Linked DNA regions of Homo sapiens: all the other regions are reported to be linked to region 1. Evidence: microRNA targets listed by miRTarBase, many of them from high-throughput screens and not tested one by one. Region 1 holds a microRNA gene; each other region holds the end of a gene's coding sequence.

Region 1 (7,438 bases):
TGCACATGCCTCAATCTCGGTGAATGTATTTGCTCCATCTGTGAAAGTGAAAATAGAATTGTATTTAGAAGGCCAACTCTGTTTAAATGTAATGCATATTATAAAAAGAAGAGGAAAACCATAACATAGGTATAATGTTATGCAAATTTCTGGTTTCTTTGGCAATTAGCCAAAATAGGAAAAGCTAATATCTGAATTTCAACTTTTACTTCTTATTTCCTCCTGGCAATTGTCAATGCTTATCTTTATCAAATGAAGAAGAAAGTGAAGGGTATGCTATTCTTGAGTACCATGGGAAAATAAAGTCTAGATATTTGTTAAGGCTATGAAAGAAAAGGATATTATCATCCTCCAAACCAGTGAAATAATGAAAAATTAGATAAATTTATTTTGTATTCTGACATCTATATATTAGGACTGTGTTAAGTCTCATCAAAGAATACAGCTAGCATTTAAAATGTTACTTGTTATTAAGAATTACATTTTATATAATTTAAAGAGAGAATATGGTTTAAAAGAGTTTATCTCTATTGTTAATAATTCTGAGTAAAATATAATACTCTTGGCTATGGTTTAATTAATGATACATTTTCCCCAGAGGTTTATTTTCCTTTTCTCTGACATTTCAAAACGAGACAAAAGAAATTCTAAAAAATCAAAATTATTTTAGAAATATTTAGTCCACAGGCTACTGATTTAAAAAAACTTTCACTTGTTAAAATGACATACATTTTTCTAAACATTGTATTTAGAAACACTTTAAAGTTCTGAACTGCTTAATAATTTTGCTTTTAATTAGAATTTTTTGCTTCTGTGTTACTAAAAAGCTCTCTGCCCTGAAACATTAGAAATAACAATTAAACTTAAAGGAAATTTTCAATTAACAGTTTGGAGGCGAGACATATACCAGAATCCCTATGAAAAGGTAAAAATAATGAATAATTCCAAAGTAATACCTGTAGTCAAAGAAAATTAATCTTCCATTGCTAAGAACCTATGTGTTTAGCTGAAGTTTTGTTTCTTATCCGTCCAGTATTGAAAAATTTATAATAGCAAAGTTATAGGAAATAAACACAATCTAATATTAACACCATTGGGTTCAATTCTATTTTCATATATTTTATTCTTTGACAATACAAATTTTCTCCATATAATGAGCCTTCTTGGTAATTTATTACTTGGCTGTCACAAGCCTGGAGCTAAAAAGTATTTAAAAAACAAAATAAGTGCTATTTAGCATGAAAATATTTGAGAATATATAGCTAAAAAAGAAATATGGCAAGATGGTAAGATTTTTTGACTACAGAGTAAATGTGAAGATAGCTACGAGGCTTAACAGTTTTTAGAATCAACTAGATATAATTTTTCATTCAACAAAGGTTAACTATTATGCACATCTTGACTAAAAAGGCGCTCTTTTAGGTCCCTTTTTAGAAACAATATAGTTTATTCAAATAAATATTAGTTCAATTTTTGAACTATTGTTTAAAAATTTTTAGCTTTTTTTTCTCTTTGTATTAAACTATTTTCTTTTTAGGAACTCTAAAGATATGACATTGGGCAAGCCACTTAGTTTCAATATCCTCATCTGAGGGAAAAGGGGGTTGAACCCCTAGTTATTGTTCACCTTCCATCCAATCTAAATTGATGTGCTTTGAAATTTTTGATGCCCACATACTAATAAAAAACAGCGGTAAAAACAGTGTTTTCTTACGTGTATAATCTTTGTGTCACATATTTAATTGTGCCAACAGAGAAAACCCATTTATTTTCAAAGACTATATTCAAAGACTATATTAAATAGACTATGCTGCAAAATCTCATATTCCATTAGAAAGCAATGTCACATTAATGTACACTCCCCCAAATTAATTTTTATAAAAAGTTAAATCATTAGCAATAACAAGCGACAATATTTCAAAAGTGATTTTCAGATTTTTCATTTCAATCCCAGTTATCTAAATTGCAAAAACAGTCGTTGAGAGGGAAGCCCTACCAAAACCTATGAATGGAGAAGGGAGAAAGGTGTAGTTCAAAGTTTCTCAATTATGGCCCTGTTGACATTTTGGGCCAGATAATTCTTTATTGTAGGGAGTTCTCTGTGCACCACGGGATGTTTGGCAGCAGCACCCCTCTGCTCTATCCACAAGATGCCAGTACCACTGCCTGCTACTCTGAAGTGGTGACAACCAAAACTGTCTCCAGATTTTGCCAAATGTCTCCTAAGGGAAGAGGAGTGGAGGAATCAGCCGTGGTTGAGAGCCACTGGGTTAGGTAGAACCGCTTTATTTTAGTGGTTTGGATCAGTGATACTCAAGAGATCAGGATAGTCACCTGGAGGGCTTTTCCAACCATACATGGCTCCAGAGATTTTAGTATGCAGCTCACACCCCCTCAATTATTTGTAATTACGTATACCTCCATTGCCCCCTCTCATCTCTGTCCAGTGTGGTGCAGTACACCAAAAAAAAGTAGAGCAATTTTTCAAAGCCTAAAATATTCTGGGTTAATCAGATGAAATCTGTGAGAGCCTTTTCCTTAATGACGGCCCCTCCAAGCCAATTTCTGAACTCATGTAATTCCTCTTGAGTTCTGCACATGCACAGCCATTTTATTGGCAACTGTAGCACCAGAACTTCACTGTCTTTCTTTACCTGTTCTGGGAGAAAACTGACAAAAGTTGTGATAATCCCTGCCCTTCTCACTATTATGAGAGAGAGGGGCAAGCAAGGCCACGGCACAGAGCAATTAAAAACACACTCTCCTCTTCCCTTTCTATAAATGCCATCCACACACCGCAAACATGCGGAGTCTCATTCTTTTATAAGCAACAATCCTTCAACTATGATCATAACTGTCTCGTCACTCTGGGTGGTGAGGTGGCCATAAGTCTGAAAAAGTGAGGCTCTTCGGTGAAGACCAGATACATGGAAACATGCTTCTCCTACCTGCCAAAATAGCTCCATGCCTCTGGCCCAAACCTTAATCAAACCCTTGGCTTTCTGCAGCAATGTTACACATAAAATGCTTTCACACACATTACCTTAAATGATCCTAAACAATCTTGTAAGTGGGATGGGGAGGTGTTTTTATTCTCATTTTATGGATGAGGAAACTCTGGCCCAGTGAGGTTATGAGACTAGTCTCAGCCAGTTATTTACTGGGGGAGCCAAGATTTGAATGCAGCTTGCTGACCTCAAAGCCAGTGCTTTTTCCATTAAATTTCACAAAAGTAGTGCTCAGCAGAGCTACAGCTTTAAAGCCATGATGGTAGTCTTTAGATTCCATGCATTTAGGACTCTTTGCAAGGCCTGGATCTTAAAAAAACAAATTCTACTCTGCTGTATTCATGCAGGTCTGACAAATAGCAGTAAGGCAGTCATCCTTCTTAGCAAGCTACCTACAACTGACAAAGCCATATATTTTTCTAATGGAAAACGTCTCCACAGACAAGGAAATAAAGTCACTTAACTTTCCAGGATTCATTAACTAAAGCTGATGTTGCTTCTGATGCTGTTGTTAATGTCCCACAAAATTAATCTAACAATACCTACTAACTCCTTGTTCACAAATCACACACTCTAAATTTGGAGTGTCCTAGAATGATGTCTCTTTTCTTGTTAGTAAAACTGCTGAGAGCCATTCCCTAGCAAGGCTGGCAAGTACAGGTTTGCTATTGGAAGATACTGGAAGGAGAAACTGCCATTAATAAAGCATGAATACTTGTCATTAGCCAGACTGGAACATTGGAAAAGTGACATTTTAGCTTAGAAGGAAGGTCTCTGAAGCTATATGGGTAGGTTTGAGGGTCTTAAAGTTGGCTTCCATTTGAAGGGGCACTCCTCCCAGCAGATTGCTACAAATCTCCTCCCAGCTGATTGCTCCCATTGGCCACCTTTCTGAATGTCAACATTAGGAAATAAGTTTAATATTTACATTTTGTGAAAGCATGACCAAGAAAAGGTAATACTAACCTCATCTATAGCTTTTTTGTAGCTCTGAAATGAGAGGAACCCAATCCAGAAGAATCCACAGAAGGAGGAAAAGCCAGCAGAAAGGCAGCAGATTAGACACAAAATTGTAATTGTTAGTACGCAACTGATAAATACAAAAGGGCGAAGAGAATGTCAATCCAGAATGATGCAAATCCCTTCATTATTACTCTCGGTATACGTCGTTACTTTAAGATGTTAAAAAAGAGTAAACCAAAAAGCTTCACGTTCATTTTACAGAAAAGATTCTCAAGAGATTTAAATAGAAAAAATGGATAGTAATTCATCCCAAATTAATTTTCAACTTTCAAATTTTAGCCTCCATACTCCTCTTTAAGGCTACCTGGGGGTCTATCATGTTACAGCAGTGAAGCTGGATGCTAAGTTGTTACGACGCCTGTTGGACCCTGCTTAAAAAGTTTGGTCCAGAAAATATAGTCCTGGAGGCATGAAAAATAGCAGAAAAACTGTAATATTAATTCATGTGGAAAATAATATGGGGAAAGAGTAGAAGAGATTAGAGAAGTTCATAGAAAGTACCCAAGTCTCTTTAACTGCTACTTTCAACATCTTTTTGCCAAAGTTGCTGAGTAGAAATTATGGAATGATAGGAGTTGTTTCTCTTCCTGTTTTATAGTTAAAGGACTGCTAATGATCAGCAAATAGCCAAAGGCAGAGGAGTCAATCCAAGATCTCTTCGGTTCTTTCCTAATCAGGTATGACTTTCTTCGGGATGTTTCTAGCATCCGTTCTTACTAATCTCAACAATTTTTGTTTGCATCATGAGTGTATCCCCAACTACTTAATCCTGTGGGTTCTCTGGTAAATTAAGAGTTCAAAACTCTTGGAGAGAAAAGCACTCACAGCTGGTCGACTGGGCCGGGTAATGTCCCTGGATTCTTCTGGTTTCACCTTCGCAGGCTCATGGGGGAGCACAGGTGATCCTTCTGACTTACTGTTGGCTAGAGGAAAAAAACAGAGGACCAAGAAAGAGATGGCCATCAAAAAGTGCTGGCTCAAGTTCTGAATGAATTATCTGTGATGTGTCATCACATTGAGATTACTCAGTGGACACGTCATTCACCTGGGCAAATCCTCAAGAAACATCCATGAAAAATATAATGTTCAGGCAAACACATTTAGGCTTGTGACCTGGAAATCACTAGTAACAATTAAAAAAAAAAGAAATGTAGCAAGTACTATCACCACTAGAGCACTTCTTATGTGTCAGGCATAGTGCTAAATGCTTTCCATGTCAATTATCTCATTTAATCCTCACTCCAACCCAATGATATGGCACTATTCTCCTATTTTACAGAACACAGATTTACAAAGATGACACAACTGTCCGGAGGTCACACTGAAATTATAGACAGAGCTGGAGTTCTGATTTCTGAAAGTCCTATTCTCAGTCACTATGCTAAATGAGCCTCTAAGGTTCTATGCTTGTTTTCTTCTTTTATCATTTGTCCAATCAGGATAGGTTATTTTGTTGAAATTTTGTGAGGGAAAAAAAATTTATTTTATTTGGTGGAACGGTTTTTAATTGGAGATGGGAGTGGTCTCAGCCCTTTAAAAATAAAAGAATGAGGTGAGGGCAAGAAGGGGGTTGTTATAGGAGAAGGGCCCTAGGCTGGAGGTACAGAGCAAGGTCAAGGGGACCCTGACAGCTGCAGAGTGAATAGCATCTTTGCAGTCTATGAGCTTACAGATAGAGAAGATGCAATTTAGGGTAGGAGAGGTGGTTTTTATTTCTTAAAAAGTAGTCTTTCTTGGACAGGGACATACCAGGGATACAACAGCCCTTTTAATCCGGAAGAACGAGGGGCTGAAGGAAATAAAAAGTAAGCCTGAACCAGACCAGAGAATTAAAATGGTATGCGTTTAAGTTTGGTTTATTTAAATATTTGCTCTAAGAATATGAAGTTGCCTATAAATAGAAAAAAGATAACAGAATGGCTGTTTTCTTTCTTTAGGTGTTTTAGAGATGGGGCTCTGTCACCTAGGCTGGAGCGCAGTGGGGCCATCATAGCTCACTGCAGCCTTGAACTCCTGAGCTTAAGCAATTCTTCTACCTCGGCCTTCCGGGTACCTAGGACTACAGGCGTAAGCCACTACATCTGGTAGTTTTCTAAATTAAGGAAATTTATATTTCGATCAAGGCAACAAAGACATACAGTAGATACTTCTGAGATGTGCCACTAATCAGAAGAATGCATATAGAGGCAGCTGTTGGCTAGTCCATATCCCAATCCAGAGACGTGAACATCAATCACATGTTAGATATCAAGCTTTTTAAAATGGAAATAGAGTGATTTATTTAAAACCCTGAAAGGGTGTTAGGAGATAAACTAAGGGTATTAGGAGGTGGTATGTAATAAAGAGTCTAAGAAAGAAAAAAGAACTGAAGGTTCTCATGAGGCTTTCATCAGACAGAGAAACTTATAAGTATGTTAATATTTGTCAAATTGCAATTAAAGTACTGGTCTTCATCACTTAGAAGCAAAATTATCTTCTGAAGAAGTTGATTCAGAAGGAGTGAATTTTAACTAGCTAGAAACAATGTATTATTATGTATCAGCACCTGGAAATAATAATGTTTTTCATAGGCCTCCCCATTACTGGAAACTAAACAATGATGAATAATTTGAATTAAATATTTAGAGAGGCTAATTTTTACTTAATAGGAATAACCAGAGGAGTCAACAATTTTTTTTTTTTTTGATGGAGTTTCATTCTTGTTGCCAAGGCTGGAGTACAATGGCGTGATCTTGGCTCACCACAACCTCTGCCTCCTGGGTTCAAGCGATTCTCCTGCCTCAGCCTCCCGAGTAGCTGGGATTACAGGCATGCACCACCACGCCAGGCTAATTTTTTGTATTTTTAGTAGCGATGGGGTTTCTCCATGTTAGTCAGGCTGATCTTGGAACTCCCGACCTTAGGTGATCTGCCTGCCTTGGCCTCCCTAAGTGCTGGGATTACAGGCGTGAGCCACCACACTCGGCCTAAATATGCTTTTTAAGTCAAAGATTTTATTCCTTCCTTCAAGTGTATTCTACATTAGTCTTTACTGAATTTCATTTTGAGAAATACATGGTATTCTGAACTGTGTATATGAACTATGTTCAGAATACTAAACAGGACAATTGGTGCAATGCGTTCAGGACATTTGTGGGTACATGAAACTCTAAAAACCGGCAATCAAACAGAAACAGAAATTCAGGTGACTGGTAAGTGACTGTATTTTCAAATAAGACTGATATTTGGTGATCTCCCTGGAAAACACTGGTATCTGAGATTAGAAAGGATTTTGTCCATACTGATGGCACACACACAATTAGGGACAGTGGCCCACTCCCGAGGAGACTGGGGTTGAGAGCAGTTGACAGGCTCTTCAGGATCACACAGTGGTGGCCATGCCTGGACTAGAGTCAGGAAGTAACTAA
Region 2 (7,438 bases), not on the chromosome of region 1:
TCTGTTCAGAGGCCTCGGCAATTCTTGTCAACCATGTGCACAGGCACTTGGGTCCCCCACCTGGCGCTGATCTATAGAACAGCAGAAGGCGGCTTCGCAGTACAGAGAGCCTCTGTCTCCTTTTATCCCCCGCCCAGGTACAGCTGCCTAAGAATCTGGGTTTGTGTGGTATGGGCCTGTCTGCTTGCTTGTTTCCTCCACAAAGGTGCCATTCCATTTGGAAACATCCTATGTCCCCTTATTTGCTTTGATTCACAATGAATAGTTGTGACTAAACAAGCACGGGATTATTTTAATAGTTAATTAACTTGCTGATGTTAAACTGCAGGTTTTACTGGTACTCAAGGGAGCACAATGGGTTTGTGCTGTGCTCTAGGTCCAGACAGCTCTTCAGGATAGGGCTGAAGGATGGGAGAAGATCAGATGTCACAGGATAAAGCCCTAAAGCCCTAACTGTGTGTTGATCACAGGCAATGAATTAGGGTCTTTCCACTGGGACTCTGCTGCTATGGGATTGCAGAGCCCTGACTGAGTTAGCATTCTCAGAGCACAACTTACTGCTAAAGACCTGTGCCTTTCCAAAGGAAAACCTCATGTTTAAAATTAAATTAAATTTTCAAAGGTTAGGGTTGGGAGAGGGGGGTGGGAGCTGTAGAAGGAAGGAGGAAGAGGGGCTGTAAGTTCACAGCTGTCAGAGGAATCTTAGCTCAACCAGGAGACTGGGTGCTTCAGCTCAGTGCTTGGCTGCTGGACCCCAGGATTGAGGACACCTGCACCCCTCCCTGCCGAGAGCAGAGCAGTCCTCACCTAGAGTCTCCTACCCTTAGATTTAGCTTGCCTGTTGCTCTTGGAATCTAACTTCTGGCCTCCGATTTGAAAAGAAAAATCTGGGCCCTCAGGCAAGTTCTCCTAGGAGCCAACTCTGAATCATGCAGACAGTTAAGTGAAGAAAGCCAGACGTCATGCCGAGCTCCAGGTCTGCCCCTGCTACCTCCAGCTGGTGCCTCCCAGAGCCGACCCCTGAGAGACTGCAAAGTGTTCAGAGATCACGCCTGTCTCCCTTCCCTCATGCCTTGCCAAGCTGGAGGAAGTCATTACCATTGTAACTACTATGTGGGCAGGGCTGGGCTCATAAAAAATGGCCAGCACACAGAGCTTGGAGGGGATCAGCTCTACAAATTAAAAATAAATTAATAAATGCATCCCTATCTTTTTCCTTCATGGAGATAAAGTGGGTTTCATTAAACAAGAACTAGGTTCTGGCGGGGAGGGAGTTGTGGCTGAGGAGAAGATATGTTTGTTGGTGTTTCTGTTGGGGGAGGCCCCCTCCTGTCAGGTTTGGAGTAAGTTGAGAAATAAAAGAGGACAGAGGTCAAAAGATAGATACTGGAGGCTATGGCTTAGCGTGAGAGTCCAAGGACGTGCTGAAAAACCCACAGGCGTGCAGAGCCAGGCAGGCCGGGTGCTGCCCTTGGAGGAGCAGATGGAAATAAATCCTCTCTGGGGCAGCTCCTTTCAAGAGAAAAAGGGAGGGCAAAGCTGGGCGGAGATGCCCAGCAATTCCTCCCAAATTTACCAATCGAGCATGTCACTTCACTCCCAGGGGCGGGGTAGACAAAGAGGAAGGGTCCTTCTGGAAGCACCAGGAATGGGAAAAGCCTTGCAGTCCCCCAACTCCTACCCCACCCCCTCCCCTCCTCTCCACAAGTGACAGGCCTTCCTGGAAGAGAATTCTGTACGTGCTCCAGAGTAAGCAGAAAGGAAAGGTCACCGGGGTCGGAGTGGGAGCCCAGGCTGCTGAGCCTCCCTCCTCCAGCACATCAGGGTAGCAGGAGAGCACCCTAACTGAGAGGCAGAAACCCATGGGTTACCCTCTGCCTTGAACATACCCTGCTCTTCCCTGACCTCAGATGGAGGCACAGCTGTCTTCCCGTGGTGTATGAACAAACACTTACGTCCACGGCTTCTTCCCCAAGATAGGATGGGCTCTTGCAGCAAACCTAAGAACACAGAGTGGCCTGAAGAACACGAAGTGGCTCAGAAGGCTCCAGGGAACATTATGGGAACCAACCGGGTGCTGCCAGGGCCCAGCTCATTCTCATAAATGCAGGAGGGCCACTTGCTTTACAAATGCTGAGTGAGCCTCTCCAGGGCGCCTGGAGCCAGGAGGTCAGGGACCAAGTCAGCATCATCCACCACCCTCTCCCCAGTCCCGGGCCCAGGGCCGGGCACACAGTGGGCTCTCAGGCAGCGGCGTTTGATTGCCACATGTACTGTCCTAAGTGCTGGCAATGCCATGGTGAATGAGGCAGCAGTGTTCCTGGAGATTCCACTGGGCTCTTCCCCGGGACAGGTGAGTGCTGTGTGTCACAGTGGCAGTGAGGCTGCAGGCAGGTGAATCGACACTGCCCAGCACGCAGTAGTGGGAAGGGTGTAAGCTCATGCAGCTGCCACCAGCCACCACTCACCTGTCCTCTTGCTTCCTAGGAAAACTCTCCCTGGAAGAGTTCATCCGAGGAGCCAAAAGCGACCCGTCCATTGTGCGCCTCCTGCAGTGCGACCCGAGCAGTGCCGGCCAGTTCTGAGCCCTGCGCCCACCAATCGAATTGTAGAGCTGCTTGTGTTCCCTTTTGATTCTTCTTTTTAACAATTTTTTTTTTTTTTTGCCAAACAATATCAATGGTGATGCCGTCCCCTGTGCGGTCTGATGCGCCTTCCTCCGTGACGCCTTCAGCTTCTTTTGTCGTGGATGCTTCGTGGGAATGCCCAGAGCCCCAGTGTGCTTGTGGAGAGCATGGACAGACTTCGTGGTGTTCATTGTTTGATGATTTTTAATCGTTACTATTATTTTTTTTTATTCTAATGTCTCTGTTCTAAAACGTAAGACTCGGGGGTTGGGGCAAAAGAAGGGAAACCCATCCAGTCCTGTGATTCTATTGCAAGCTTCAAGGGGCTTTTGTTTGAAAGACAAAACTCCCCACCTGAATCTGTTGTCACACGTGCCGTAGGGGTGATGGATGGCACCGGATGCTGGATTCCCCAAGAACAAGTTACCCTCTGGGGTGAGGCTATTCCAGCGAGCTGGGACATTTCCCCATGGGGGCCCACTCCCCTCTCTTCCCCAGCAGGCTGTAGTTTCTAAGCTGTGAACATTTCAAGATAAATTAACAGAGGAGAGGAAAAAGATGGCTCAGCTATTTTTTCACAGGTTTACACTAGTTGAGCTAATATGCGTGTCTTTGGAAATTAAACACAAATGGTAACATATTCCAAAACCAGACCCATCTTGTTGCCTATTGTGATAAAATAAAAAGACGGCTGTATATAACATATTGGGTAATGCAGACCAAATTAAGTGTTTTGCCTTGTTTAAATGAAATGCATGTTTAGTGAGCACTAATACAATCTTATTCCAGAAGACTGTTTTTAGTAGCTTATTGTGAAGTAAGACAACTATAATGAATGTCTGTCTTGTTTGGAAGTCATATCTGTCTTTGCACAAATGTACCAATCGACAAGTATATTTTATATATTCCATAAAAATACAAAGTAACCCTGACTAGGGCCCAACTTTAATTTTGAATGCATTTCCAGAGTGGCCATGCCTAGAGGGCAGATGCAGAGCAGGTGGTAGTGGGACAGGACAATTGGAGCACAGGAATGTTAACATGTATGACAGGGGACCAGTAGGGTGGTTTCCCTCTCAGGCCCAGCAGCCCATTGACAGCATTAGACTGGCGGCATGGTGCTTTTCTGAGCAGATCAATACTCTGCAGACTCGAAAAAACATCACATACATTCTTGGAACTTCCCAGTGGTTTAATCTATGTGCATGGTTAGGGAGCCAGGTCTGGAATATTCAGTTTCCCTGCCCCTGTTAAAGAATCAGAGGTTGGGCAGTCATCAAATTCATCATAAAGACATGGGCAAGTGTGTCTGTGGTTTCCAAGGCCCCCCTATGGAGAATCCAAAAGTATTTTCCATTGCCGTGCTCTTTGAATGCAGACTTCTATTTCCAGAAGTGACAGCACAAGTCTGAGTTGCTGTTTGGTCTGGTGACCTCAGACACACTAATTTGAATTGAAAGCTAAGAGTAAAAATTTGCTGGTTACAGGCGAGTCATACTCTTGCAAGTAGTTAGCAAAGGGAGGCCCAAATTCTCAAGGTTGTTGATGGGGAACTTGCCACTAAGAGAAGGCAGAGAGGTCCCTAGTGGGTATATTTGCTGCCAAGCCACTTGCCAAAGAAGAGGAACCACAGAAAGAGAGACATCATGACCAGGAGAAAAATGTGACTAGACATGCTAACCTCCAGGTTTTTATATATGACTTGAGTCTGCTGTAATTGGCAGCAGAAATCCAAATTTGTATGGTAGACCAAAAAGAACCAAATCCATAGGGTGAAATTTTGAGACCTAGACTCTGTAAAAATAATCCTAGTCTTCCTCCAGGGGTCAGTTCCTCACAGTGGTTCTGTACCAAAACTTGCCAAATTCCTCCATGGCCAAGTGTTAAAATCTGTGTTTGGAAAATAGCGAATTAACCTAAGACACAGAAGGCAGACTGGGTGAGGAGACCTAGCATGCCCTATTGGCAGTGCTCAGGAGCTGCATCCCACTTTTCCCTGCTCTGAATCGAAGTCCTAGTTCCTTCCTTTGATTCTCCTTTGGTAGGTGGAATCAGTTAATGTTTTGAGAAACCTGCCTGGGCTCTGCCCTTAGTCATGACATCTCGCTGAGCCAGACCCACTCTGTTCCTTGGAACCTAGAGCTGGAGTGAGGAGTAGAGGTCTCCGGCTATTCCAGAAAGAAAAGTGAGCCACATGCAGGCTGATGAATGCCGACACTTCCAGAATGTATAGAAATAGTCCCTGTCCTGGCCTGCCACTGACCCTGTCTGTATTTTCTCGGAGGTTGTTTTTCTCCTTCTCCTTCCCAGGAAGGTCTTTGTATGTCGAATCCAGTGCACTCAAGTTTGGCCAAGGGACTCCACAGCACCCAGAAGACTGCATGCCTCAAGGTTTATGTCACTCCTCTGCTGGGCTGTTCATTGTCATTGCTGTGTTCAGGGACCTTTGGAAATAAAACCTGTTCTGTCCCAAATAAAACCAGCCTGTGATGTTCAAGGGACTGGAATAAAGTGGCTTACGACCTGAAGGATTCTACAGAGTGCTCAACTGTTCATACATCATTCAGAGTGGGAGGGAGCTGGGGGTGCTGTCCCATCCCATCTGTATGCCCACGGTGGATTTAATAATATATAATTTATAAATCATAGCCTATGGAGTGGCCCGTAAATCAGTTGACTGTGTAGCTCTTGCCTGGCATTAAAGCATGTTTTTGGTTTAACATGATTTTCATGAGATTTTCATGCCTAAACTGCTGCCCCAGCTGAATCTGTGCCTTACTGAGGCTCTAGCTTCTGATACTAGCCTCCTCCTGGGTATTTTTCCTGCCTAGAGTGACACAAGGAACCAAGGTTTGTGAGGGGGGATGAGAGAGGCTGCTGACCCCAAAGTTCTGTCCAAAGGCATCCTTGGTCTTCATATGGGCTTCCTTACATCCCTCCCTCCATGGTCTACACTTCCTTCCCATATCCTCTCCTTCCTCAAACTAGAGTCCAAATGTTAGGTACAATAAAGGGAGAAACTGAGGCAACCTCCCCTTCAATGGGATCTGGGTAAGCTTCAGGAAATAAATAACCTCTTCACCCCTCTCAGCCTGAGAAGGTTCAGTGAAAAAGATGACATGAGGCAGAGCCTACACTCTGAAAGCCAGTTCCAATCATGGTGTTGGCTGTTGCTGTCATTGGCCTTGCCTCCAGCACAGGAGGCCGTTACTGTAGAGAAAAGGAGCTGCCATCTTGCTAACTTGAGTGTTAGCTGTGGGAGAACTTCACGGGCCAACTAGACCATGTGTGGGGGCAGAGTTGCCCTCGAGGGAGTCTTCCTACTGCACACAGTTGGCCACTATGGACCAGTGATGGCCCTGACACCATGAGTCCTGAGCATGAATAACACAAGTCTGATCCTGAGAAGGTGGCTGGGCGTCTCCAATCTCATCAGGAGCCTGCCTACCAGCAACCTGGGAATTTTCAGCAAATTTCCAAACCTGAGGCTCCTATTTTCAGGACATTGTTCTGCTGCCCCAACCCAACTGAGTCCCCACACATCCTAGTTCGGTACCCACCAGCTGAGGAAGAGTCCAAGTGTTCTCTCAGTCAAGGTAGAAAGGAGAGCATAAGAACTGCCTTTGAAAGAATGGACCTCCTTCCCTTTTTTTTTTTTTTTTTTTTTGCTTTGGTGGTTCTCTCTTTTTTTTTTATTTATTTATTATTATACTTTAAGTTTTAGGGTACATGTGTACATTGTGCAGGTTAGTTACATATGTATACATGTGCCATGCTGGTGCGCTGCACCCACTAACTCGTCATCTAGCATTAGGTATATCTCCCAATGCTATCCCTTCCCCCTCCCCCCACCCCACCACAGTCCCCAGAGTGTGATATTCCCCTTCCTGTGTCCATGTGGTCTCATTGTTCAATTCCCACCTATGAGTGAGAATATGCAGTGTTTGGTTTTTTGTTCTTGCGATAGTTTGCTGAGAATGATGGTTTCCAGTTTCATCCATGTCCCTACAAAGGACATGAACTCATCATTTTTTATGGCTGCATAGTATTCAATGGTGTATATGTGCCACATTTTCTTAATCCAGTCTATCATTGTTGGACATTTGGGTTGGTTCCAAGTCTTTGCTATTGTGAATAATGCCACAATAAACATACGTGTGCATGTGTCCTTATAGCAGCATGATTTATAGTCCATTGGGTATATACCCAGTAATGGGATGGCTGGGTCAAATGGTATTTCTAGTTCTAGATCCCTGAGGAATCGCCACACTGACTTCCACAATGGTTGAACTAGTTTACAGTCCCACCAACAGTGTAAAAGTGTTCCTATTTCTCCACATCCTCTCCAGCACCTGTTGTTTCCTGACTTCTTAATGATTGCCATTCTAACTGGTGTGAGATGGTATCTCATTGTGGTTTTGATTTGCATTTCTCTGATGGCCAGTGATGATGAGCATTTTTTCATGTGTTTTTTGGCTGCATAAATGTCTTTTTTTTTTTTTGAAAAAAATGCAGTTTTATTCTGTTTACAGAAGTAACATTGTAAGCATATGTATGAATACATAGTTAAAAAGTATAAAGACAAAAATAAGTCTACCATATATTAACAAAAAGAAAAATTATATGGTTAAATTAATAGTGAAAAAAGTAGATCTTAAGTAGAAGTGCAAAATATAAAGATGTACATTTCAAAGTCATAAAAGGGTTAAGTCCATAGCAAGCTATAAAATCACAAAGTTTTCAATACCTAATTAGCACAAAATTTAATTGTATAAAGCAAAAGTTGAAAGAACTAAAGGAGTCATATACAA
Region 3 (7,438 bases), not on the chromosome of region 1:
CACCTGTGGCATCCACCATCCATGCAGTTATTTGGGTATTTTATTGCATTTCATTCTCTTTTATCAAAATGACTGGAAAGTGCAGAAAGCCCCGAAGCTGATGCTGGTAGTGGAATCTCAGGCACTGAGTGTGGCGAGTCTCAACTGGCCACTCCCACGGAGCCTGGGGAGGCTTCAGCAAGAGCCAAGTGAGAGCAGGGCAGAGGCCGGGCCCAGCGCCAGCGAGGCATCTGGGGAGCCGTGCCCTTGTTAGCGCTGAAAATGGAAGCCCCTCCATTCAGGCCTGGACAGATGATGGGCAGCGAATGTGCTCACCTGCTGAGCTGTGGGGCTGGACTAGGTACCAAAATCAGGGTAGAACACTGAGGCGTCTGTGGGCGGGTGTGTGCACATCCACACTTGTACACTCACATTCACATGCACATATGTGCACACGCATGCAATTCATACACATGCACAGTTGTGCTCACAGCCTCGCACGCCCTTGCACACTCGCACTTATACACATGCATGGTCATGCTCACAGCCTCGCACACGCCCTCGCACACTCATCCACACACAGCTGTGCACAAGGAACACAGAGCAGATGTTCTCAGAGGGACTCTGACACCTTTGAGATGAGGGTTTTTTAATCACTGGAAGGCTCTCTTGGGTCTAACAGGTTCAGAGAATGTAACACCTGGTTTTCAAAACATTTTTCAAAGAAATAGAGAATTCCCATACACAGGCATACGTGACGTTATGAGGCCGGTGGAGGCCTCGCTCGGTGTTGCCCTGTATGGTTGAGCTGTGGTTTAAGGTGAACTCTGGAGTGTGGGCTGCAGGTGAGGGCTCCGTCCCTGGGAGCTGGTGGGAGGAGCTGGAGGCTGGCGCCGCCCTGCTCAGAGCTGCCTGCTTGGGCTCGTCTGAGGCGGTTCCGAGCTGCAGGTGTCTCCACCAACCTGCTGTGCTACACAGCGGGGTCTGGGGCAGCCTCACCACTGCGTGTCTTGGTTTCCTCTTCTGTAAAACAGAGGCTGCCTCCAACCCTTGGAACAAACAGGGAAGAGCCGTAGCAGGCAGGATGTGAGTGGAGCCTCAGGCTGCTCCTGGAGGGTGTGGCTCTGCCTGCCGTGCGGCCTTCCACACCCGTGGCTACTGTCACATTCACACACATGGCCATGCTGACACCTGCTCTCACTTCTGCCCTGTGCAGTGCTTGTGTGCAGCCAGGAAGGCAGCAGCCGCAGGTGTGGAGGGCAAGGGGACCTCCTGTCGGGCTCCCTGGGCGTCCTGGTACACTGGGCGCTCCTTGCTGGACCACAGAAAACAAATGGGTAAGGCCACGTCTTCATTTATTCTACTTTGAAACCGTCTGATTTTTCTAAGCTGTTTCAGTAGCTCATGCGTTGAATAAGTAGCCCTGGAAACACTGACAATGAACTCTAGGCTTCACTGGAGAGATCTCGGCACAGACGAACCCTCTTGGCAGAAGCTTCCACCCCACACTTGGGCCTGGGCCTGTCCATCATTCACTGTGGATGGGGCCTGGGGCAGGGGTGGTCTTCAGAGCTCTCCAGAGAGTTCCGAGGTGCAACCAAGGCCCAGCAGCACGCTGTTCTGGGAAGTTGAGTGGTTTATTCTGTGTAACACAGAATACTAAGATAGAAAACAGACAGGGTCAAGGCTTACTTAGACACTTGTTCTTAAAGATGTGAATTTTCTTTAAGAGACAGCAGAATTCTAGGACCAGGGCCCTTGGCCCAGTTCTGTAGTCAGAGAACTTTATGAATGCAAGCAGTTCCCATACCTCTAAGCATCTCCATTTCTCTTCTGTGAGCCCATCAAGGTGGTGGCTGCAGGTGCTAGGTGTGGCAGACCCGGGCTTCTGGAGGGTGGGCAGGGCTGTCATCCAGTGGCCTCATGTGTCCTCATTGCCGGGATGGCAGAGTCTGGGACCATCCCCCAAACTAGGTGTGTCCACATGAATTTGAGAGCCGAGGAGGTAGGGGTGTGGGCAGGAGTCTTACTGTTCATTCTGCTGTGTTCACTCGAGTTGCCTCCACCCCTCCCCCAGGAGATGGAGCCCTGGTAGCAGGAATCCCCATTCTCAGACCTCAGATGCCCTCTGCACCTGGGCACTGAGAGCACAGTCAAACAGGGCTAAGCAGCTTGTGCCGCCTGGCTTTCCCCGGGAACACCTGGCCCACTGTGTGCCCTAGCCCTGGACCTGTCTCCGAGTACATAGACGTTTCCTGTGTGCCTCCTGCCAGGGAGTAGTGGAGGGTTAATGGTGGTTTTCGCTGTGATAAACCTGCTTTCTCCTCAGGGGCATATCAGACTTGAAATTGACAATTTGGGGTCCTGAGATTGAAACAGGAGTCAAAACCAGAGCCCAGGGTAGCTGCGGCCCCCGGACCACGACGCCCACTTCCCCACACCTCCTGCTGTCCCCCTCTCCGCAGGTCCAGCCCTCTCCTGGTGGCCGCGTTTGGCGCCTGCTCTCTCACCAGGCAGTGCAACCACCAAGCCTTCCAGAAGCACGGTCGCTCCACCACCACCTCCGACATGATCGCCGAGGTGGGGGCCGCCTTCAGCAAGCTCTTTGAAACCTGAGCCCGCGCAGACCAGAAGTAAACAGGCACCTTGGACGGGGGAGAGCGTGTGTGTGATGGGAAAATCCGGACCCACGCGTGTGCTGAAGGCGTACGGTGCTTGCCAGATTTTCAACTTGAGCATAAATTGGTTGCCATTGAGAATTTAAGAATCTGGAATATTGCAGCTTTTGGTTAAACTTAATGCATGGTTGGAGATGTTATGGCGACACTAAACAAAGTATTCCTGAACTTTCCTTAGCTCCTTGGTAGTAACTGGGAAGACAGAAATGAAGAAAATCACATGAGAATGAAGAATTCTTTAGCAGCTCAACAGAGTTTCTCGGCCTGCTCCCAGATCGGCGAAGTTTCTACTTGTTACTCTCTCTGCCGGCGCCCTTCGTTCCTCCTCTGCTTCCCTTCCCTAGTCTTTCCTCCGGCAGGGAGCTGGGCAGGGGTCCCCGGGTGTCTCCCTGAGTCCCGACTGCACTGACTGGGTCCATCAGAGGGCTGCTTCGTTCTCCAGCTCATCTTCTTTTAAAGTGGTGACTAGCTTGGTGGTATCTGGCTGCTGGTGTTTGGCTTATTGACATACTCCAGGGTAATCAATGATGACTTTGTTTGGAAACCCTTTTGGAGGCACCATGGGAACAGAAGGAAACATGAGTGACGCTGACCCTTGAGTGTGTGGGTGGGGAGCTCTGAGACGCCTCCTGTCCCACGCTCTCCGGTGTCCGTGTCTACACAGGGGTCCCCATGATACCCACCGGCCCCAGCAGGGCAGACCGGACCGGGGACGGGCACGGTGAAGGGCTGCAGCCTGGGGTCTGACGTGGCCCCTAGTGCTGTCTCAGGAGAAGGCTCTGGAGGACTTGAGGCATGCTGGGCCTGGTGCAGTGATGGCGCTAAGGAGACCCGGGGAAAGACAGTATCGTGGTCACGTATGCTTAGGAAGCAGCACAGCCGTGTCCTTAGGGATGTTCGCGTCCAGTAAAGACACTGGTAACTGCGGTTTCAGCCAACACTCTTCATGGCAGTGTCGACCTCGGGTTAGCTTCTGTTGTCTTTGTGGATGGTTTTCCTGGAGCGGCCTGACGTTGACGTGTTCTCTGGTCCCATGTCTTAGCGGGGCATGGTACGGTTTCGTGCCTGACGCGTGCATTAGGGTGTTCTCTTATACTTTCAGTAGCATCTTTCCACAGCAAGGGCCAAACCCTCCTGGTTCCCTTCAGAGTCTTTTTGGCCTGATGATGACTCTTGAGTGATACCCTGTGATGCAGACATGCCCCAGATGGATTCTACTTTCTTTAAAACTAGGGACTTTCAAGATTAAAAAAAAGATTGTCACTACTAATTTGACGCCTAACTTCAGAAGCTTCACTGTCTACATGTGAACTTTTCCAGAAAAACTGTGCCATGGACATTTTTCCTCTGGGGAATTAACATCTAAATTCTGGTAACTATTAAAAGACAGATCTGGTTAATTTAAATTGAGTATTGTATTTTTTTCCTTAAACAGCTAAAGCTCACCTTTCAACTTTCTTAGGTGAGGACATTGTGTGAGATGCCAGGGAGATAAGAATATCTAAGCCTGTCTGTGTGAGATTGGCCTCCTCGCCAGCGCCTCTCCCGTGGTGGCTGCAATAAAGCACCTTGAAGGATAAGCCCAAGGCAGCCCCTTCTTTCCTTAGGAAATAGAATTCAGCAGTCACAGGAACTATTCGTCTGGTTTTTGTTCTAAGTAAAACATCCCTTTGCTTAAAGGAGAGAATGGGTTTTTTTACAAGCAGCTCATTGCTTCCATGTTCTTTCTCAAACCCACGTATTTCACGCACTCGCTCCAGCCGGACACGCTCCCAGGAGCTTCCCTGGACCAGGAGAGCAACGGGAAAGTGTGGGGGGGTGGGCGGCCCGTAATGCCCCAGTACTGAGCAGCCCTGTCGAGATGCCTCATTGTAAGGAGCCCTCTGGGGACTTTTTCTATGTGGGTAGCTTTACTAGGGTGATTTTCTAGGTGAGTGACTTCTGAACTGTAGACAGGAGACCTGTACCTCAGGGTCACGGTTAAATGATGAGCAAGCCCGTATCCCCAGTCACGGGTCCCGCTGCTGCCTGTGCCCTTGGGATTCAGAGATGCCAGTGTGACAGGGAGAGGCCTGGCCCAGGGTCTGCGAGCAGGAAGAGTGGAGAGGGGTCACCCTGCTGAGTCACTGACAGCTGTGGCGCTGGGCTTACCACAGAAGGGTGAGATCAGGAGCAAGGTGGGTGCTTCAGGAGGCCACCGGTCCTGTAGCCCAGGCAGCCTGCCGTGTGCTGGCCGCCACCTCCCGCTCAGGAATCCTGTCTGTCACAGCTCGCCAGCTGGCTTTCAGCCTGGCTGCCCTGACTCCTCCGGAACCAACCTTTCCCAGGCCCAGCTCGACCCCATCACTGCTCTGCACAGACCATGACCACCAAGATGGCCTGCAGCTGCCAGGATGTTAACTGCAGCGGGACTGCAGACGGGTTCTCAGCTGCATTTTTCCTATGCTGAATACGTTACTTTTGTAACCAGAGAGAAAACGTAAGATTGTGTTCTTGCTGGGGGAGGTGTCCCGGGGTTAGCATTGCTGGCGTCCCACCTCTGCTTCAGACTATGCTGCGTGGCCCACCCACCTCACCCATCCCCAGCCCCTCCCTCAGGAGGAAACAGGCTGCATTCTGCCGCCTCCCGGGGTCCCTGCTCTTCTGTTGGCTGTGTTGTCTGTTCCCTGGGCACAGGGCCAGCAGGTCTCACGCACAGGCACGTGTGCTGCTGGATGCTACTGAATGTCTGACACTACTTCACTCAATCGACGGTGAGTCTGTAGCCACAGAACGCAGTGAGTGTTTAGGCTCAGTTACTAACAAACAGACGCCAGTGGGACACTGTTGGTTGCCTTACTTTAATGCTGACCTAGCAGCCCCGACAGGAAGCTTTAACATAAAGCCTTGACCCTGAGAAGCATGGGTGCGTCTTGTCGTGAGCAGGTTCATGGCTGTGCTCCATCCTCAGCCCGCTGATTTTTGGTCTTTTGTCCTTTGATCCAGCAGTTCCCACGTGGATGTTGTACTGCTTCTGTCCTGGAGAAGAAGAGTGAGGTCCAACTCTGAGCAGACACCACGTCATGTGGCACAGGGGGCTGACAGGCGTAATCAGGTTCAGGGTGCCTGTTCCCTCACCGGCCTGTCCTAAAAAGCTTGCCAGGCGCTTAGAAAGGGCCCCACTACCTCCAGCAGAAGGCCAGGAGCTTCAAGGCACCTGCAGGAGGTGGCGGGGGCTGAGCAGGACCCACGTCCCCGTGCTCAGCGTCCCCTGCAGCCAACTTGGCCCCTCCCTCACGGCCCTCCCACCTCATTTTTTATGGGGGTGGGTTTCTCTACTCAGAAGCATGGGCAGGGCGCAGTGGCTCACGCCTGTAATCCTGGCACTTTGGGAGGCTGAGGTGGGAGGATCACCTGAGGTCGGGAGTTTGAGACCAGCCTGACCCACGTGGAGAAAACCTGTCTCTACTAAAAATAAAAAATCAGCCGAGCATGGGAGTGCATGCCTGTAATCCTAGCTACTCAGGAGGCTGAGGCAGGAGAATCGCTTGAACCTGGGAGGCAGAGGCAGAGGTTGTGGTGAGCCGAGATCACGCCATTGCACTCCAGCCTGGGTGACAAGAGTGAAACTCCGTCTCAAAAAAAAAGCATGGTCACGGGGGATGTCTGGGCCTCTGATGGCCCCACGTCCTGTTGACCTACCCGGCTCCTGGGGTGATGTCCCTGACCTTGGTGCGGCACTCACCTTGATGTTGATGCCGTGGGCAGTCAGGCCCCGGCGCAGGGTGTCGCATGCTTCCAGCAGGGGCTGCCTTTCTAGGAGCTGCTGCCGCCGGGCGTCCCCCGTGGCCTCGGGCATGGCCAGCGCAAACTGCCGGACCTTCTGCCGGAACCGCACCAGCTCGTCCACCACACCATGCAAGGTAGCCTCGCTGCCGTCTCCTGAAACGTACTGAAGCCAGCAGGGCGCGGTTACGTCCCCCGGAGACTGTGGATTGTGGATGCCCCCTCCCCACCCCGTGGTTGGGCTCTGGGCCGACACCCACCCAGCCCTGGGCTTCCCTGATTCCCTGCAGCTGGGCCTCTTTCTGGGTCTGGCAGGGATGGGTACAGCCCGCGAGCGCTGGGCTCTGGGCAAGGCTCCACTCAACTCTGAGCATCTGTCGTCCAAGCAAGGCTGAGTGATCCTCACTCGGGAGTTGGAAGAAAGGGCTGGGGGCTGCATGCCGCCCCGCCCTGAACACAAACGCTCCCTGGCTTCCAGACCTCACGCAATTGTGGCCGAGGTATCAGGAGCAACCTGAGGATGAGGCTGGGGGGCAGCGACTGAGCGCTTGCACACGTGTGTTTCGGCAAATGGTCTGAGATTCACAGCCTCAGGTGCTGAGGACGGGATTTGCGCAGAAGGCCTCGCGCTGTCCTCCCACTGAGAACAGATCCTGGGGCGGTGTGGAAGGGGCAGCTGTACCTATTTGTTAAATCCATGTGTGTAAAATAAGAAACAGACACAACATTTGACCTTGGTGTCAAACTACTTAAACCTCACACACCCCTCAGTTATTGCTTCCATGATAAAAGACAGTTTTTGTTATTACAGAAATATGAGCCCAGAGTGGGCCCAGACATTGGGCCTTGCGGCCAGAGGAAGGTGAATGAGATATCTTTGACAAGGGCTAGGCAGAGCTTGGCCAGATCCCACTTTTCTTACTCAAAACAGACTCCGGAAAGCCACCCCTAAAAATGAACATGTACATTGCAAAAACTTGGGTCATCTCACACCAGTCGACTTTTATGTGATTGGC
Region 4 (7,438 bases), not on the chromosome of region 1:
CAAGCGATTCTCCTACCTCAGCCTCTTGAGTAGCTGCAATTACAGGCATGCACCACCATGCCTGGCCAATTTTTTTTTTTTTTTTAAATTTTTAGTAGAGATGGGGTTTCACCATGTTGGCCAGGCTGATCTCAAACTCCTGACCTCAAGTGATCCACCTGCCTTGGCCTTCCAAAGTGCTGGGATTAGACATGAGCCACCACACCTGGCCTCACTTTTCATTTTCTAACGTGTGTGTGTGTGTGTGTGTGTGAGACAGACAGGGTCTCACGCTGTTGCCCAGGCTAGAGTGCAGTGGTGTGATCTTGGCTCACGGCAACCTCCCGGTTCAAGCGATTCTCCTGCCTCAGCCTCTCGAGTAACTGGGATTACAGGCGTGTGCCACTACGCCCGGCTAATTTTTGTAGGTCTAATGTCATTTCTTTCTGGGTAAGGATCTTTGCTATTTTAGGAATATAGGCAGATCTGAGTACTCAACCCCAGGTTCAAGTTGAACAGCTCCTCTTTAATCAAAGGGAGAACACAGATGTATCAAACAGAGTAGGAAAGAAATGTATCAAAAGACAGTAGGAAAGAAAGCCTTTCCTTCTTGAAAGGCTGAGGTTGAGAGGGAAAGCTAATTTATCACTACAACTCTATGGTAGCTTTCCATGCTAAATTTTCCCTGCCTCTTTTGTGATTTTTTGATATGGAAGAGTAGGGGTTATATCTTCTCTGTAACAATTAGGCCATATTTCCTTATACCAAGTAGAGGTGCTCAAACACTGTAGTGGTATTAAAGGGCTGAGGAGAGTAACTGAAGACTGGCATACAGAACTCCACCTGGAGGACAAAAGTCCGGCAGATGATTCTTGTCATCTCAGTGCCCTTAAAGTAGTCCAAAATCCTAAAATTCAAAGCCAGAAATTCCACACCCATTTAGTAAGCACCTATATATACACCATATATTCTACTACACACAGATTATATATCTAAAATGGAAGGAAATCTTTCCTCTTGTGGGAAAGAGGAAGTGGAAAGGAGGTGTACATCCCAATACATCTACCTACAACTGAGAGAAATTAACTACTATTACCACCTCCCACACCATCATCTTTCCTCTCTCTTTGCGTAGCCTGAGCTTTCAGAAGCACAACTGCAAACATCTCTAACTGGTTCACAGGAATCTATTCCTTGGTCATGTCAAACAAGATGTTATTTATAACCCACACCTCCAACCCTACCTAACTTTGAGTGGATGGGGCAACAATTACGACAGACTCTGCTAAGTTTCCACAAATCATTGGTTTATTAGAAAGTTCCTTTCCCTCATTTTACAGCATATATATCTCTATCATATGTGATAAAGTTAAATACAATCTGTTATGCTTGTAAGTAAGGTTTATTTTTATTTTTACTTTTAAAATCACTATTCTGGAAGTTAAAGAAAATGCCCCTAGGAAGGCAAAGAGGCAGCCAGAGTATGGCTCAATCTACAAGCTAATGGGAAGCAGCACGAAAATGTTAATACTGTATTATTTATTTACATGGGCTGAAAGCAAAGAAAAATGAGTCCCTTCACTTACACAGATGATTTCATTTTTCCAGTGCTAGTTATCCAAGAAGTGATGCTTCTGAATCAGATGAGTACTGAACAGGTAGGAGGGTGGGAGGGCAGTCAAGAGTTGTGTTTGCCTGCCACTTTCTTTTCATAAACTTTACTCTTTTGAGAATTTGCGAAGGCAGGAACAGAGCCTTGGCCCAGGTAAGTATGGTTTTTCTTGTCAAGTGACCAACCAACCAATTCTAGCCACACGAATAGTTAGGAAAATGCCAAAGTGGGAATTGTTAACCTCATCAAAGGAGATGGGACCTGCAACACAAGCACCTTTGGGTCAGTGTGTTAATTAGGGCTGAGAGCCTGGGTGAAAGGCAAGAAGAGGGGCAAAAGAGGCTGAGGTGGTAATTCCTCTTGTCAGTGTCATGGGAGAAAAGAAACAAGGAACGTTTACTGTCTAAACTGAGCTGGGCAGAGGGCATGGAAACTATGAAGCAAAATATCTGTAAATGTGCTCACCTCCCAACAAAAGGAAGACTGTCCCAACTCATCCTCCAGCCTACTTCTACTTCCGTTTCTACCAACCCAAAAGGCACATTAAAAAAAAAATTGTCAGAGGGGGCTAAGTACTAGGAAGGCAAATGGACTGACTGCCTGGAACAAGGTACCCAGGGAAACCCAGGAATCCCCCCAGACAATCACCAAATCTCACTGCTTCCAGACAATAAAGCTGTTGAATCCCCTCCTTCTCCTCTGTGGGGTCTACCTGTTTCTCTGTGTAAAACAGCAAAAGTACATGAGGGAGACTGTTAAAGATGAGCATCCCTCAGAAGCCCCCAGCTGACTGCTGCCCATTAGCTCAAAAATCCCAATACTGGGGGCACTACATACTGCAAATTACTTAACATTTTGTCCCAGCAAAAAATGTTTTAACATTTTATAGTTCATAACTTCAAAAAATACATAAGTTTGGTAAAATATACATGCTTAGTCAGTTTTGCATCTAGCAGAAAACAAATATTTTATTTTTTGTTTTCATTTTATAACCTTTAGAGTTTCTTAATTCAACTAGGGCAAACATATTTACACAAAGCCACCAGAACGAGGATCACTTAAAGAGCTGGATGTAAAAAATATTATTGCAGTATACTACAAATATGGAACCTTTTTTATATGAGCTACAAAAAGCAGCATTTACGTTTATAGAGTTCAGTGCAATTTTTTACATTAAAAAAATCCTATAAATTAAGAAGGAAACATCAACACAACAGAAGAAAATATACCCTTCACTTTAGACACATGAGCTCCTCTCTGGGCCATACAGCTTTTATTCATGATAGGATCTTCTTTTCTGGGATATGGAGATGCCTCTTCTGGGATGAGGGATACCAAGATAACAGTGCCAAATGTGTGGCTCCGTTGATGTGGGAACTGGATGGAATTGCAGCCTGAGTTATATCAGGTTCCAGGTGAGACGCTTTCCACCTCACCTGGGATAACGTAACGTCACCAAAGATGGTCAAAGATACTACCCCAAAATGGTGGCACTTCCACCACTAGAACAGCTTGGCCTTCCCTGTGGCGCTGAGAAGGCAAGACCAGATGGGCCCACAGCAAGTGCTCTGGTGACAACCCACTGGCCAGAGGGGAGGAAAATGTTTTAAAATTTACAGAAGGGAAGAGCAGAGGAAAAAAGCAGAGGGAGGAGGGGATTATCTAAACTTGACAGTTTGGAGATGTTGCTGCAGAGGGGTGGGTAGCACTTACTGGTGTTCCCTAGCTTAGAAACACAGAAGAGGGAGGGACAAATTGAGAGGAGGACAGGAAAAAGAAATCCCTGATAGTAAACTGAAAGCAAACTTCAAATCTAAACCCACCCCTGCAAGCCAAAACTCAATTCTTTGGCTGTCAGACACTGCCCATCCCAGCTTCTACTTGCTGGTATTAATGGCTCAACACCCCCAAGGGAACATTTATGGGTCTCCTCCCCTGGCCCTACCTAGGATCCCATCCCCCAACTCACGTGCCATGGCTGGGGGGATGTTGCAGGTCCTGACCTGAGAAGATGGGGTGAAGTAGTGGGTGAAGGTGAAGTGCAGTGGCAGCTGCTGCAGCAGGCCGTGGAGCAAGTAGGGTGGGGTAGAGGGCAGCATGTGGGACAGGGTGAAAGGTGAAGGGCCCAGGATGGATGGCTGAGGCGGGAATGATGTGGATGGGATGGCTAGCGAGAAAGGTGGCAGGGTGGCCAGGGATGATTGAGTGAGTGAGGTGGGACAAAGAAATGGGGGTCAGATGGGGCTGGGGAATATGATGCACCTGGGCAAGTGGTTGGGGATGGGGGTGAGGGTGAATGCCGATGGCGGCAGCAGCTGCGGCAGCATGATGTTGTAGGATGGCATGCTGAACAGTTGTGATGGAGGTGGCAGAGGCTGTAGCTGGCTGCTGAATGTGGATGGGTTGCAGGGCTGGTGTGGCTGGGGCCAGGGCAGCTGAGGCTGGAAAGGCCTTTACTTGCTTGGCCAGAAGCTGCTGCTGGATGTGTTGCTGAGCAGCCTGCTGGAGCTTGCTGTACTTCTCCATCTCCTCAGGGGTGAAGGTGATGGGCTGGCTTTCCAGGGGGGCCAGTGAAGCATCCTCAGCCCCATCTGTTGACTCAATACTAGGATCCCCACTGGGAGGTGCATAACTGGGGAAATGCTCAAGGTCTGGTGCTATAGGCAGCAAGCTGGACTCCACAGGGCCTGGCTGACTGCTGCTATCCAGGGACTCCAGGGTGTCCCCATCACTGGGGTCGGGGAGGTAGTTATGGGAGATGGTTGGGTCCCCAGGGTAGCAGTCAGAATGTGCTGGGGTGCCTAGTGGAGCCACAGGGTGATCAGCAGTAGCTTCTCCAGACTTTGACTCTTCTGGGGGTGGGTCTAATAAGGGGCCAGTTGTTTCCTCTGAAGGGAACTGATGCCCAAATAGGGCATCACTACTCCCTGGGGGCCCCTCTTCTGTCTCTGACTGTTCTTGCTCTTCCCCCCTTTCCAAGCCAGACTCTTCACACTTCTTATTGGGCTTTCGGGTAGCTGGGAGCTTCCCTATCAGTGGAAGGACAGGCTTATTGCCAAGAGATGGGGGGAGCTTGGGCCCAAAGTAACCTTGTGGGGGGTCCTTGAGCTTGGGCCCAGCTTTATTAGGGGTGGCCTGCACCTCCTCACTCACACTAGGTTTCCTCTCCACTTTCCTTGACTGGATCTTCTCCAGTAGCAGTTTGGCAGTGACAGAGTTCTTGTCTTCAGGACTGCAGTCACCTTCTGACCCTCTTCCTGTGCCAATGTTGCTGTTCTGGGAAGGTGGACCTGTTGCTTTACTGTCATCTCCTCTGCCATCATCTTTCTTCCCAGGACCTTCTCCCCGGCCTGATCGGAAATAGTGGGGGGACTGGGAGCGGTAGATCTTAGAACGAATGAAGTCCCGACGCCCAGAATGCCTCTCCTCAGGGCTCTCGTGACCCCATGATCTCTTCCTGGAGCCTGATCTCTGGGAAGGGCTCCTGGTGCTGCGGCTGCGGTCCCGGCTATAGCTCCGGCTCCGTTGCCAGCTGTGGGCTGTGGTGCTACGGCTTCTCCGCTTGCTTCGACTACGACTACAACTGCTGCTGCGGCTGCGGCCCCGGGATCTTGAGCGCTCTCTGGTATGACTCCGAGATCGGCTTCGGGACTGGCTGCAACTGAGGCTATAGTCATCATCAGAAGATGAATATTTGTGCCGTTTTGATCGGTGTTTGGAGCTGGCATAGTCTGAGTCATCTGAGTCATGGGAGCGCTTGGAGTGCCTTCGTGATCTGTCACTGTAGTCACTGTAGCTGTCATCAGAGTAACTGCGCTGTCTACTATAGCAGCTCTGGTCTGAAGAGGCATCTGAGCTACTTGAGTAAGAACGCCGGGAGGAACGATGCGAGGAATGGCGCCGGCCAGACCTTGAGCGGCTGCGGGAATGCTCACTGCCTGAATCTTCCTCTTCTTCTTCCTCACTGTACTGGGATGGAGACTTCTGGTGCAGCCGGTGTGAGGAAGCATCATCACTATCCTCATCTCCACTACTGGGTTGGCTCCGATGGCTAGACCGGCTGCTCCGTTTGGTGCCTGCTCTTCGCTGGCAGGATGAAGGTGGAAGTTCACCTTTGTGTTTCCTCCCACCATGGTCTTGGGAGCTGCTACCACCCCCACCTTCATCCTTTTTGCCACTGCTCCCCTCTTCAGCTGGGAGGGATCTCCGCTGGGAGTCATCTTGAGCTCTCCGCCTTCTTCTTGGTGGTGCGGGACTGCCACTCCCAGGGGGTTCTGGTTTGGGTCCTCGTTCAGAATCTGCTGGGGCTGATGACTTATTCTTCTTTCGTTTTCGTTTCTTGCGCTTCTTAGATTTCTCCCCTGACTCTGCCTTAGAGCTTTTCTCTTCTGTGTCAGCCTTGTGTTTACGTTTGTGTTTGCTGGATTTTTTGTGCTTCTTTTTCTTTTTGTGCCGGTGGGACTTCCCAGATCGTTCTTTCTTGCTGGGAAGGCTTCTCCCTGTGTCTTCTGTCTCAGACCCATGGCTACCCCCAGGCTCCTGCTTGTTCAGGCCGCTACAGGCAGACCCTGAAGCAGGTGCGTCCATTCTGCCTCCTGAGGAACGTACTATTTTCTCTCCGCCCACTTCCTTGCTTTTATTTGGCTCACCAGGATCTAGGCCTTGGAGATGGTCCTTTGAGGAGCTTCCTATATCCTTTGGTTTTTCTGTTCCTTTAGTTCTGGCATCTTTGTTCCTTGAAAGTTTAAAGTCAAAATATAAAGGGTTACAACTGTATGAAATGGAGGGTTCTGCCTTGGTGAAAATTAATAGTTCTGATGGCCACTGGAGGGCAGTGCTTTCATCTTTGCTCAAAACTGGGAAGAAGGGACCAGTAGGATGTTTGGGTCCTTCTTGGCTTTCTTTCCCTGCTGGGGTGGCCAGAGAGGTTTCTTTAGAAGAGTTGGACTCACACATTTGGGTCTCTGAAACCTTCTGACTATGACTTTCTAAACTCTGATCACTTACATCCCCTCCTAAGGCCTTCTTTGCCTCAGCTTTGCTTCCTGGTTCTGAGGGCTCGGTCATGCTGGTTTCCTTCGGCTGCTCAGAGACTTCACTAACTGTCTTTTCTGCTCCTTGGCTTGCTGCCGCCTTGATGCAGCTTTTAGGCTTGGGAGAACTGCCTTTTTTACTCTCTGGGGCATTCTTTGGGTGTGTAGTATTATCACCATCCATTTGTTCACTGGCTCTCATAAAAAGTAGAAAGGGAAAATTAGGTTTTACTTTGCAGTGTGCTGGGGGGATGTAGTGGTAATACTCAGGCTCTGTAGCCCCAGCTCCTTCTTCTCGTTTCATCCTTTTTAATTTGGATAATGTTGAGGCAAGGGACCCTCCATCCTGAGGGTCTTCATCCTCTTTTTTACCATCAAGATTACTGCTCCCATCAGAGTCTCCTACCTTCTGCAGTCCTTGGTCAGAACTCTTCTCATCGGGTTTTGTTCCATCTTCAGAGGTCCCTTCCTCCGCATGGTCCTTGAAAACTGATGCTATTGATTCGAGTTTGACAGGAGCCTTTTTGGCAAAAGAAAATGACACTCCCAATTTTTGCAATGGGGTCCCCAGATTATTCTTAATGCCAAAGCTGATGCCTTGGGAGGCTAACCCAGGAGCCTGGGCCAGTCCAGTGGTATTAGTGATTTGTACTGCAGTGAAAGGGCCTCCTTTATCTGTGGAGAATTCAGATCCCAGGCCACAAGAAGCAGTGGCACCTGTGCCACTATTTGTAGCTGATTCATCTTTATCATCTTCTCCACCTTCTTCATCTACAGCCACTGTGGTTGGTTTGAACATGGGACCACTTCCAGG

What was found. Region 1 holds the annotated microRNA hsa-miR-569 (AGUUAAUGAAUCCUGGAAAGU, at 3,471-3,491, opposite strand). A microRNA usually pairs through its seed, bases 2 to 8, with sites in the 3' UTR of a target mRNA and lowers its output. Matches are read on the target gene's strand: a 7mer-m8 pairs with bases 2 to 8, a 7mer-A1 pairs with bases 2 to 7 and ends in A, and an 8mer does both.
Region 2: miRTarBase lists NCALD as a target of hsa-miR-569. Seed matches in the 3' UTR shown: 7mer-A1 at 3,164-3,170.
Region 3: miRTarBase lists NAXD as a target of hsa-miR-569. Seed matches in the 3' UTR shown: 7mer-A1 at 4,012-4,018.
Region 4: miRTarBase lists GPATCH8 as a target of hsa-miR-569. Seed matches in the 3' UTR shown: 7mer-A1 at 1,881-1,887 and 7mer-A1 at 1,502-1,508.

Annotation. Positions count from the first base shown.
Region 1 is chr3:171,103,209-171,110,646 of GRCh38, forward strand. It overlaps MIR569 (microRNA 569), which reads right to left and starts at 3,551; the gene lies at 3,456-3,551. It overlaps TNIK (TRAF2 and NCK interacting kinase), which reads right to left. Exons shown (of 33, transcript NM_015028.4): 20 at 4,857-4,954; 21 at 3,975-3,998. It overlaps LOC105374216 (a long non-coding RNA gene), which reads left to right. Exons shown (of 5, transcript XR_007096163.1): 2 at 3,986-4,167; 3 at 4,630-4,708.
Region 2 is chr8:101,684,456-101,691,893 of GRCh38, reverse strand. It overlaps NCALD (neurocalcin delta), which reads left to right. Exons shown (of 4, transcript NM_032041.3): 4 at 2,488-5,352. The coding sequence ends at 2,585. Among named protein-coding and RNA genes, the nearest start is that of NCALD, 100 kb to the left of the region's middle.
Region 3 is chr13:110,635,934-110,643,371 of GRCh38, forward strand. It overlaps NAXD (NAD(P)HX dehydratase), which reads left to right. Exons shown (of 10, transcript NM_001242882.2): 9 at 1,196-1,316; 10 at 2,445-4,063. The coding sequence ends at 2,595. CARS2 (cysteinyl-tRNA synthetase 2, mitochondrial) reads right to left here. Exons shown (of 15, transcript NM_024537.4): 14 at 6,382-6,588; 15 at 5,484-5,675. The coding sequence ends at 5,604. Among named protein-coding and RNA genes, the nearest start is that of NAXD-AS1, 23 kb to the left of the region's middle. RefSeq lists an enhancer at 779-1,607.
Region 4 is chr17:44,394,012-44,401,449 of GRCh38, forward strand. It overlaps GPATCH8 (G-patch domain containing 8), which reads right to left. Exons shown (of 8, transcript NM_001002909.4): 8 at 1,270-7,438. The coding sequence ends at 3,557. Among named protein-coding and RNA genes, the nearest start is that of ITGA2B, 8.1 kb to the left of the region's middle. RefSeq lists an enhancer at 3,469-3,969 and a silencer at 6,181-6,644.